Linked DNA regions of Homo sapiens: region 2 is linked to region 1. Evidence: fine-mapped expression QTL. A gene starts in region 1. The other region holds a variant in brackets. All regions are shown on one strand. Distances are from middle to middle. Region 1 holds the start of DPY19L3-DT (DPY19L3 divergent transcript). Region 2 overlaps DPY19L3 (dpy-19 like C-mannosyltransferase 3).

The links.
Region 2: its variant is fine-mapped to the expression of DPY19L3-DT in whole blood (INTERVAL, PIP 0.95).

The regions. Positions count from the first base shown.
Region 1 is chr19:32,402,134-32,407,515 of GRCh38, reverse strand. It overlaps DPY19L3-DT (DPY19L3 divergent transcript), which reads left to right and starts at 1,977. Exons shown (of 3, transcript NR_046201.1): 1 at 1,977-2,525. It overlaps DPY19L3 (dpy-19 like C-mannosyltransferase 3), which reads right to left and starts at 1,746. Exons shown (of 19, transcript NM_001172774.2): 1 at 1,607-1,746. RefSeq lists silencers at 1,365-2,114, 2,145-2,194.
Region 2 is chr19:32,459,234-32,464,615 of GRCh38, reverse strand. DPY19L3 (dpy-19 like C-mannosyltransferase 3) reads right to left here. Exons shown (of 19, transcript NM_001172774.2): 13 at 1,128-1,250; 14 at 636-747. Among named protein-coding and RNA genes, the nearest start is that of DPY19L3, 56 kb to the right of the region's middle. The variant T/C (reference allele first, on the strand shown) is at 2,874.

The sequences.
Region 1 (5,382 bases):
AGTAGGTCTTCAGTACCTCCCACAGAAGTGGCCACGTGGGAGATACTCCATAGTAAATGTGTTGACAACCGGATTTTGAAGAATTAAAATATTGTTTTGTCTCAGGTACCTGAATTTTAACACCAGTGTTCTATAAAACAATTCACACTGGCAGCTTCAGGAATACGCCTCAGTGGTGATGACTGCGGGGGTGTGCCAATCAGGGCAGCTGCTATCCCAGGGAGCGTCGGTGGGAGTAATGGGTGGGGGGGAGCAGGAGCCTGGTTTGGCAGCAGCAAGTGGGAGGCGGGGGAGTGGTGGCAGTGAGTAAGCGGGTTCCAGTCCTCCAGAACATCTTGCTTCACTCCTCTGAATAATGAACAGCCTCTTACTAATTATTTCTTAAATGTGACTAGTAGCCTGACATGATTGTTTCCACAGTTTATTAATTCCTAAGGGTAACTTGCTCTACAGAACAAACCAACTAACATTATACAATTCATGTATTCATTCATACCAAAAAAAAAAAAAAAAGCAGGAAGCCAGATTTAAGTACTGTGCTTTCAAGCACTGGAAATGGAGAATCTGGAACAGAGAGGGAGAAGAGGAGTGTTTAACAAAGTCCTACAGCCACAGATGGGCTTATCCCCCATGTGACCTCATCCTAGAGTCCTCCCTAAGTGTGAGAGGACTTTTTTAAACAATTCATATATTCTAATATGTTAAGGCAGAAAACCAACACATATTTAAGTACCAATTATGTGTCAGGCACTGCAACAGTCCCATGAACTAAGAAAAAAAGTTCCTCCATCAGATCAAAAGGAATGCCATTGTAAACAACTGAAAAGGGACCAGAAGCGATTCTTTATTAATAAGGACGACTAGCGCTAGCCGGGCGAGGCGGCTCATGTAATCCCAGCGCTTTGGGAGGTTGAGGCAGGAGGATGACTTCAGACCATGAGTTTGAGACCAGCCTGGGGAACAGAGCGAGACCCTATCTATACAATAAAATAGCCAGGCTCGGTGGTGCATGCCTGTGGTCCCAGCTACTCCAGAGGCTGAGGTGGGAGAATCGCTTGAGCCCAAGAGTTCGAGGTTGCAGTGAGCCGTGATAACGCCACTGCACTCCAGCCTGGGCGAGACAGCGAGACCCCTGTCTCTAAAAAATAAAAATAAAAAAGCCTAGCGCTCTAGTGAGCATCCCCTGGACGAGGCAGGCACCGGGTCCGCTTACCTACGCGCCACGCCCCTGCACACCTGGCGTCCCCATCAGGTAGGTCTCCAAGGACAGGGGCAGCCGGGAAGTTCAGGCACGCGCCCCAGCTCTCCCAAGACCGCGAGCGGCCGCCGGGGTCGCAGCCCAGGCCCTGCCTCGCCGCACGGCCGACGAGCAGAAGCCGCTCCGCAAACTTGGTCCTTCCGGAGCCCAGCCCGGCCCGCGTCCCGGCAGACACTCCCGCGCTCCGCCCCTCCCGACGCCCCGACGCCGCGGCCGCGCCCCCCGACTGCGCCACGCGGCGGGGAGGGGCGGCCCCAGGGGCTCGGGGCTGTAGCCGAGGGTTCCGCCGGCGCCCGCCCGCCCTCTCGGTAGACCCTCGCCCGCGCGTCCCGGCGCGCCGCCACAGACCTGCGGCCTCAGCCGTCCTCACGCGCGGCTCCGGGAGGGGAAGGAGGCCGACGGGGCTAGGCGGGAACGGGGCCGCGCCACGGGCCGCAGCGCGCCGCGGGTACAAGGAGGGCAGAACCGCCGCGGAGCTTTGTGGAAATGAGGGGCTGGGGGGCGTCAACAGCCCCGGGGAGGGGGCGCGCCGGAGAGGCCGGGCGGCTGCCCCCGCGCCCATAGGCCCCGGGAGCTGTTCGTCAACACTAGGCCCCGCCTCCTCCCGCGGTTCCCCGCCTCGTCTCGTGCTGCGCTGGCCGGAAGGAAGCGGCACACTTCCGCTTGCCTGGTCCGCATTGAGTCCGGTCTGTTCCGGAGACTCTGAGCGCGGCCGCGGAGCTGCAGTGGCGGGGAGTGGGGTGCGGATCTTGTGTTTGCGCACGCAGTCGCCGGCCACCTCAGGCCGGAGCTAGAGATACGGCTCGGGATAGGAGGGCCCGGCGGCTCTGAGGCAGGTTCGCCTCGAGCCGCACGGCCCGGAGCAGCGGCTCCGCGGTGGTCCCCGGGGCTTGAGAGGGGTGCGGGCCTGGGAGCCCCTGAGGGCCTGATTTACGGAACTCCCCCTCCTTCCTCCTTTCTGCCGTTCCCTGCTCTGTGGCGGATGCGCAGGGATCAGTAGGGACGGCAGCAGTAGGGCCACTCGGGCCTGCCCCGCTTCCCGCATTGCCCGGTTTGGCGCGCCGCCTCCGGGCCTTGGCAAAGCCCCAGCGCCCGATTGTCACTGACCAGTGCTTGGAAGTCCTTTACCGACTGCCCGTCAGCGTCCCGCGGAGAGGATTTTGCGTCTCCAAAGACGCCCCTCTTCCGAAAACAGGCTCCTCTGTGTTCTCAGTCGGGTATATTTTTCTGTCTCCAAACTAGATTGGCAGCCGTTTTTTGAGAGCAGGTACTGACTGTGCTTTATTTCTAGATACTTTTCTTAGTCACACCACGGAAAACACTAGGTGGAACCTTTTTTAAAATTATTTTTTACAGGTGAGGCTCTCAGTCTGTCGCCCAGGCTGGAGTGCAGTGGTGCTATCACGGCTCACTGCAACCTCGGCCTCCTGGGCGCAAGCGATCCTCCCGCCTCAGCCTCCGGAGTAGCTGGGACCACAGGCTCGCACTACTATGCCCAGCTAATTTTTAAATTTTTCGTAGAGATGGGGGTCTTGCTTTGTCGTCCAGGCTGGAGTGCAGTGGTGTGATCGTAGCTCACTGCAACCTTAGTCCCCTGTGCCCAAGTGACCCTGCTTCCTCAGCCTCCTGAGTAGCTGAGATTCATTTTAATTTTTATAGTGATGGGGTCTCGTTGTGTTGACCAGTCTGGTCTAAAACTCCTGAGTTCAAGCAGGCCTCCTGCCTCAGCTTCTCAAAATGTTGGGATTACAGGCTTTAGCCACTGCAGCGGGCCCATCAAACGTTGTATTTGTCAGTACATAATTTACATGTTAATTGATTTTTGTTAAAGGGATGGCCATCTGGGACCTCCACCCGTGAAAAGGCGGCTCATTGGTCTGACTCCAACACTAAATTACGCCATCCAGGAAGCCTTTCCTAGTCACCTCTGTTGGAGATCGTCCTCCTTTGTGTGTCGGTTGTTAGTAAAGAGCACACGTTCTGTGGAAAGATGTTGAGGTATCTGCTGGATGGCTTTGATAGAAACAAATGTCAGCTGTTTTTTCAGATGGCATTTGTCTTGTTTCAGCCTGGTTGTTGGTAGCTTTTCTGTCGCCTGGCTTGAGGGCAAGGACTGTATGTTTATTTTTCACGTTAAGATGCCTTTATGTGCATGTGTCTGTTTCATGAATACATAGGTGAATTGAGTTCCCCTTAAATAGGATTTCCCTCTTATTTTATAGGTTTTTTTTTTTCTCTCAAGTTGTTTCACTCTGGGGGAAATGTGACCATTGTGAAATATCATCGCTTAGTTAAAAAGAAAGTAGAATTCAGCAGTAGCTGCTTTTTTTAATACTATGAAAAGACATTCCTAAGCAAGATGAAGCTTTGAGACTTTTCCTAAGTAGGACCTACTGCTGAGAGTAAGTCTTGGGGAGAATAAGCCAATTAAGAATGAGTCTTTGGTTCTGATAAAGTAACCATGGAGGTGATGGATAATGAGTGTAGGTCCTTGCTCACACTTCTGGCCATATGAGCCCGGAGCCAGGGAGGTACTATAAAAGGAATGGGCTCCTGTAATGGACTGTGACTGCAGTGGTGGTATATAGCAAGACTTCCGGTTTGCAGTAGGTTTAGAAGCCTAAATAGTCTCCCTGGTTGTCTCTGCCAGGGCCACAAATAGTTGTGCTGTGCATCTCAAAAGTGTGGTCTGGGGATCTGCAGCGTCACTGTCACCATCACTTGGGAGGTTGTTAAGAAATGCATGTTATCAGGCCCTACCCCACGCCTACTCAATTTAGAATCTGTAGGGCTAGGGGACCACTAATCTTTAAGAAGTTGATATGGTTAGGCTTTATGTCCACACCCAAATCTCATCTTGAATTGTAATTCCCATAATCCCCACCTTTCAAGGGAGAGACCAGGTGGAGGTAATTGAATTATGGAGGCAGCTTCCCCCATGCTGTTCTCATGATAGTGAGTTCTCACAAGATGTGATGGTTTTATAAGGGGATCTTGCCTCTTCGCTCAGCACTTCTTCCTGCCTCCTTGTGAGGAAAGTGCCTTGCTTCCCCCTTTGCCTTCTGCCATGTTTGTAAGTTTTCTGAGGCTTCCCCAGCCATGCTGAACTGTGAGTCAATTAAACTTCTTTCCTTTATAAATTACCCAGTCTTGGGCATTCTTTGTAGCAGTATCCTTTATAGCAGTATGTATAGCTGTATGGACTAGTACAGAAGTTTTCCAGATAATTCTGTGCTCGGAAAAGTTTGGGAACCACAGCAGAACCTTGTTACTCAACATGTGGTCTGTGGGCTGTGCAGCATGGGCATCACCTGGGGTCTTCTGAGAAAAGCCAGGTCTCAGGTCCTACCCAAGACCTGTGTAGCCAAAATCTGCATTTTAATATGACCCCCAGGTCATTTATGTGTACATCACACTTTGAGAAGCACTGCACCAGAAATCTTTTAACACTGTTCATTACATCCATCCCATGGAAGTATCTTGTCTTGGGATCCCGAGGGTGTGAGTTCTTCCGTCTTACTGGCTTTTTCCTGTCTGATACATGATGTCCATTTTAAAAATTTTATTTATTTTAACTTTTTGAGGTAGAGTCTAACTTTGTCACCCAGGCTGGTGTGCAGTGGGGTGATTTCGGCTCACTGCAACCTCCGTCTCCCGGATTGAAACGATTCTCCTGTCTCAGCCTCCTGAGTAGCTGGCATCACGTGCTGGCCACCACGCCCGGTTAATTTTTGTATGTTTAGTAGAGACAGAGCTTCACCATGTTGGCCAGGCTGGTCTCAAACTTCTGATCTCAAGTCATCCACCTGCCTTGGCCTCCCAAAGTGCTGGGATTACAGGTGTCCTCCACTGCGCCCAGCCCAGTGTTCATTTTTCAATTGTTTGACTTAGTATAAACACTCTCCATCATTCCTGCCTTCTGTGACAACAGACTGTGCGTGTTTCCTCTGTCTACCTTTCAGGCATTCCTTTTAAGTTTCATGCAGCTACTCCTCCTCCCTCCTCCCTTCTCTTTCTCTTCTTTCTTCTTTTCTTCTTTCTTCCTCTTCCTTCTTCTTCCTCTTCCTCCTGTTCTTCCTCCTCCTCCTCTCTTCTTTCTTCTTCTCCTCCCTTCTCCCTTTTTG
Region 2 (5,382 bases), 57 kb before region 1:
ATTTTCCTGTCTCAGCCTCCTGAGCAGCTAGGATTATAGGAGTGAGCCACTGTGCCCGGCTTTTTTAAACACTTCTGCCTTACAGTTTTGCTTTGTAAATATATGCCTTAAAAAATTACCAGAAATATAATTTAATGGAGCACAAGTCTCCAATATGCAGAATAACTGAGTCGATACTAGGATTCTAATCATTTGTAAGATATCTGCAGCTTCTACTATATTGCCACCTAGTGAATTTATGGAGTAGAACAATTCAAAACTGCATTTATAGGCTACTGAAAAATTGTCATACATATATAAATAATTATCTTTATGAAAATACATTATAATAACAACAGTTATAATTCCGGACAAGGGGATTATTGGTAATTTTAATTCCCCTTTTGTGCTTTTTTTTGTATTTCCAAATTCTGTATAATGAACATATCTAACTTATAGTCTGAGAAAAAAGTAATTTTTTAAAATAAAATTATTTTAAAATAATTCCCTATAAAATCTTAATATATCAATTATGTATTTTCAGCTTCAATTTCAGTATCCATTTTATCTCACAGCTACTGAAAAACAAAAAAAGAAGTGGTATGAAAGAAATACTGCAAGTCATAAAAGGAGATGGAAAAAGGGATGACACTGACCCTCTTTGGGTTATAAAGATGGACTGACTTCAGAAGTAACTCCCATATTTCAGGGCTACATAGGCCGAATGATGCGAACACACACATGTGTGACGTCCAGAGGTACTTCATTCTGCAAGAACAGACACAGGCGCAAGTCAGAAGTACTAGTTGTATATAAACCTGGATTCTGAGACACCTATAAAGGCAGCTTTACAGTCTATGACGGCAAAATCTTACTTAAAACTATGCAGATGCCATTTGCCGAAGGGTTCGTTGTTTAACTCCACTGCCTTTTCAAGACTATGCTTTGAGTAAAACATAGAGGCGTGTTTGTAATTAATTGTAAAAACTGATGTTGAGTATTTTATACTGAGAGAAGATAGGATATAAGGATGATTTTATGGGAACCATGATCATTAATGAAGATGATTGTCACTTTCCAAATTATATTGCTAAGTAACATCAAGAGTGATCAAATAAAAAGTAAACAAACAGGTAAGACAAAAATACCTCATTGTACTCAATGCCAAGAATCCAAACAGAATGGTATGTATTAAGTTGTAGGCAGTTTCTGGTTTCAGGTCAACTGTGCCTTTTTCCATTTTACCCACGGATTGTTGATTTGTAGAATCACTGAGTAAAACAGCAACATACAAAATTTAAGCTGGAAACATAATTTTAGTTAGATCTTTGTAAAAGAAGAAGATACAAGAAATGTATGCCTTTATGTATTCAGAAATTGATTATTTCCATAAGATGAAATGAATTCGCATTGATCAATTTTGAATTTATGAGGCTAAAGTGTAACAATATAAATGCATTAATAATGAGAAAAACTGAAATTTCACAGCAGCTTTGAAGTAAAAATTTAAAGTGCTTCAATTCTTTAAATTAAAAGAGAATGCAAAAAAAAAAACTCAAATTTTTTGGAATTGCTGAAATTGAAAGAGATTTTTAAAAGATGTTTTACCAGTTATTATGAGTATTTTTCAAATTTTTACAAATAAGCAAAAGCAAAACACACATCCATTAACTTGGAATTCAGTTCCTTTATGACCCCTCAAAAATCACATTTTTAACCTACCAATACCTCCTGATATCCAAAAGATGACTTTTACCAAATACGGCTACATTAAAATTATTACACCCAATAAAAGTAACAATAATTCCTTAACATCATCTAATACCTAGTTCATGTTCTATTTTCCCTGTTTGCATCAATTGCTTTTTTCAGGTTTCTCTGAATCAGGATCTAAGAACTGCATGTTGCATTTCACTAATATATATCTTTAAATATCTTTTGATCTATAAAAGTATCTCCTTTTTTTAAAAAACAGGCCATTTGTTTGTGGAAGAATAGAGAACATATGTCCTGAAGCTGTTCCCGTCTCCCAGGTGTGGCTCACAGTGGTGGTTATACGTTTCATGCTTCTTGTAAACTTGTAATTAGATCTAGAGGTTTATCAGACACAAGTTCATTTTTTTGGCAAGAACACTTCACGGGGTTATGATGCACAGTAGTCCCCTCTTATCGGTGGATTCACTTTCAGTGGTTTGTTATTGAGGAAACTGCTGTCCGAAAATATTAAATTGAAAATTCCAGAAATAAACCATTCATAGTTTTGAATTACATGCTATTCTGTGTTGCATGATGAAATCTCTCCATCCCTGTCTGTCCCACCTGAGACTCAGATCATCATCCCTTGGTCCTGTGTTTCCACGCTGTATAGTCTACCCACCTACCCGAGACAGACAAGCAGATACATTCAGCTACTAAACTACTAATAAAGTAAGATACATTTAAATGTCCCTGTATTGTTTGTGTTCAAACAGCCCTTATCTTACATAACTAAGGCCCCAAAGTGCAAGAGAAGTGATGCTGGCATGTTGCTATAATTGTTGTATTTTATTATTATTGTTATTCTCTTACCATGATTAATTTATAAATTAAACTTTATCACAGGGATATATGTATAGGAAAAAAACATAGTATAGAAAGGGTGTGAAACCATCCGAGGTTTCAGGCATCCACTGAGGGACTTGAAACATATTTCCACAGAAAACAGGACGGCTCTATTCCACATCACATTACACCGGGAAGCACACACTGCCTGGCTGTCTCCACTTCAGTGATGTTAAGACTGATCAGTGACTTTAGATGTTGCACAATTTGTTGTCGAGGGGAAAAGAAAACAACAGTAAAGGCTACTAGTTAAAGATGAAACTTTCATGAAGGTCTACTGATCCCTTCATACA[T/C]ACCCAATAGAACTGGGCACATACGATGCTTCTCTATGTAACTAGAGACTTTTTTTATTTCCCAGAAATCCTTTTTTTCCTACCATAAATACATACGAAAATTAAAAGGATACTCTAAGGCAGTTCTCACCATTGGTAATTCACAATTGGAATCTTTACTTAAAAGTAAATATTACAACCCAAACACTGGTTTCCATATTGGTACAAAAAGGATACTCCAAATAAGAATATCCATCAACAGGGCAAGGTGTGAAAAGTAAATAAAAATAAAACAGACAAGGGGAGTATCTGCTCTTATCCTCTCTAGATACCTAAGAGAAGTCTGCAGTACCTCCCCCATAGCCCAGCCAAGCTGGAAGGCTCTGATTAATTCCATGAACACAGAACACCATGCCCCTTTCAGATGTACCCCTCACACTAATGCAGATGTCTACATAAAAGTCATAGTATCTGGCAGGGTGCAGTGGCTCATGCCTGTCATCCCAACACTTTGGGAGGCTGAGGCAGGGAACACCATGCCCCTTTCAGATGTACCCCTCACACTAATGCAGATGTCTACATAAAAGTCATAGTATCTGGCAGGGTGCAGTGGCTCATGCCTGTCATCCCAACATTTTGGGAGGCTGAGGCAGGCAGATCACTTGAGGTCAGGAGTTCAACACCAGCCTGGCCAACATGGTGAAACCCTGTTTCTACTAAAAATACAAAAATTAGCTAGGGGTGGTTGTGCATGCCTGTAATCCCAGCTACTTAGGAGGCTGAGGCAGGAGAATTGCCTGAACCCGGAAGGCAGAGGTTGCAGTGAGCCGAGATTGCACCACTGCACTCCAGCCCAGGCAAGAGCGAGATGCATTTCAAAACAAAACAAAACAAAACAAAACAAAACAAAACAAAACAAGTCATAGTATCATCCTTCCTAGTACTAAAAAGGTAGAAATACTTTAAATACTTGGCACTGACAAAAGGCCCTTATTTAAAAGTTAATTCACATTTAGACAGTCACGTGCCACATAACATTTTGGCCAACAACAGATCGCACATACCACAGTGGATTCGTAAGATTATAATGGAGCTGAAAAATTCCTATTGCCTAGTGACATCATAGCCATTATAAGGTCATAGCACAATCACTTTGTTTTTTAAATAGATTTACTGTAGCCTAAGTGCACAGTGTTTATAAAGTCTACAATAGTGTATGGTAACATCCTAGGCCTTCACATTCACTCACAGGCTCACACAGAAAAACTTCCAGTCCTGCAAGCTCCATTTATGAAAACTGCCCTATATAGGTATACAATGTTTAATCTTTTATTACAGTATTTTTTAAAAATAGAGATAGGGTCTCACTCTGTTACCCAGGGTAGAGTGCAATGGTGCAATTATAGTTCACTGAAACCTCAAACGCCTGGGCTCAAGTGATCCTCCCGCCTTAGCCTCCCGACTTGTTAGCACTACAGGTTTGCACCATCGTGCCTGGCTAATTTTTCTTTTTCTTTTTTTTTTCCGTAGAGATGCGGTCTTGCTATGTTGCCCAGGCTGGTCTAGAACTCCTAGCCTTAAGCAATCCTTCTCAACCTCCCAAAGCACTGGGATTACAGGCCCACCATACCTGGCCTTTATATTTTTACTGTACCTATTCTATGTTTAGATATATTTAGTTACACAAATACTTACCATTGTGTTACAACTGCCTACAGTATTAAACATAGTAACTTGCTGTCCAGGTTTGCAGCCTAGATGCAGTAGGTTATACCACATAACCTAGGTGTGTAGTAGGCCATACTATCTATGTTTGTGTAAGTATACTGTATGATATTCGCACAATGATAAAATCGCCTAATATGCATTTCTCAGAACATATCCCCCTTGTTAAGTGACATGACTGGACTATGATTCTTTAATTACTTTCATGTAGTGCTTTTCCTCTAATAAAGTCCTAATATCCCTATCTGGCAGATGAAGATGCTCTAAAATCTTTTATCTATGATCATATACCCAATCAGCCTCCAGAGATGGCTCATAGATTCACACAGAGCATGGCAGACATTTTCAGGAAGATACTGCAGGCCCACTGAACTTCCTGCTTTGTATGCAGTCCAGAGTCCTGTTGACACTTGCTATGTCTGGAATGATATTAAATCACACTGTCCAGAATAATTTCCATCTATTTTCACAGGGCTAAATTTTATCTTGGGTTAGGTATGAAAAAGAACACTTCTCAAGGATAGTAAAATAGTTTATGTTCAATGAAATATTTTCATGGTTCAATGTTGTTTCATTCTTAATGATCATAAAACCTCTCAACTGCTCTGGACTCATTTTAATGACAGCTCTCTCGTGGCTGTGAATCACAGTTCACCAGCACATTAATTGGCAAGGTAACTACAGAAAAAGGGCTTCCTCGTGAGCTTCATTAAGTTTTCACAAATGACAGCAGCTTCAACTTCTTACACTTAATTTTCTTTCAGTTTAACACGAAGAGTCAATGCAAACCCCCCCAGCAGCTTGA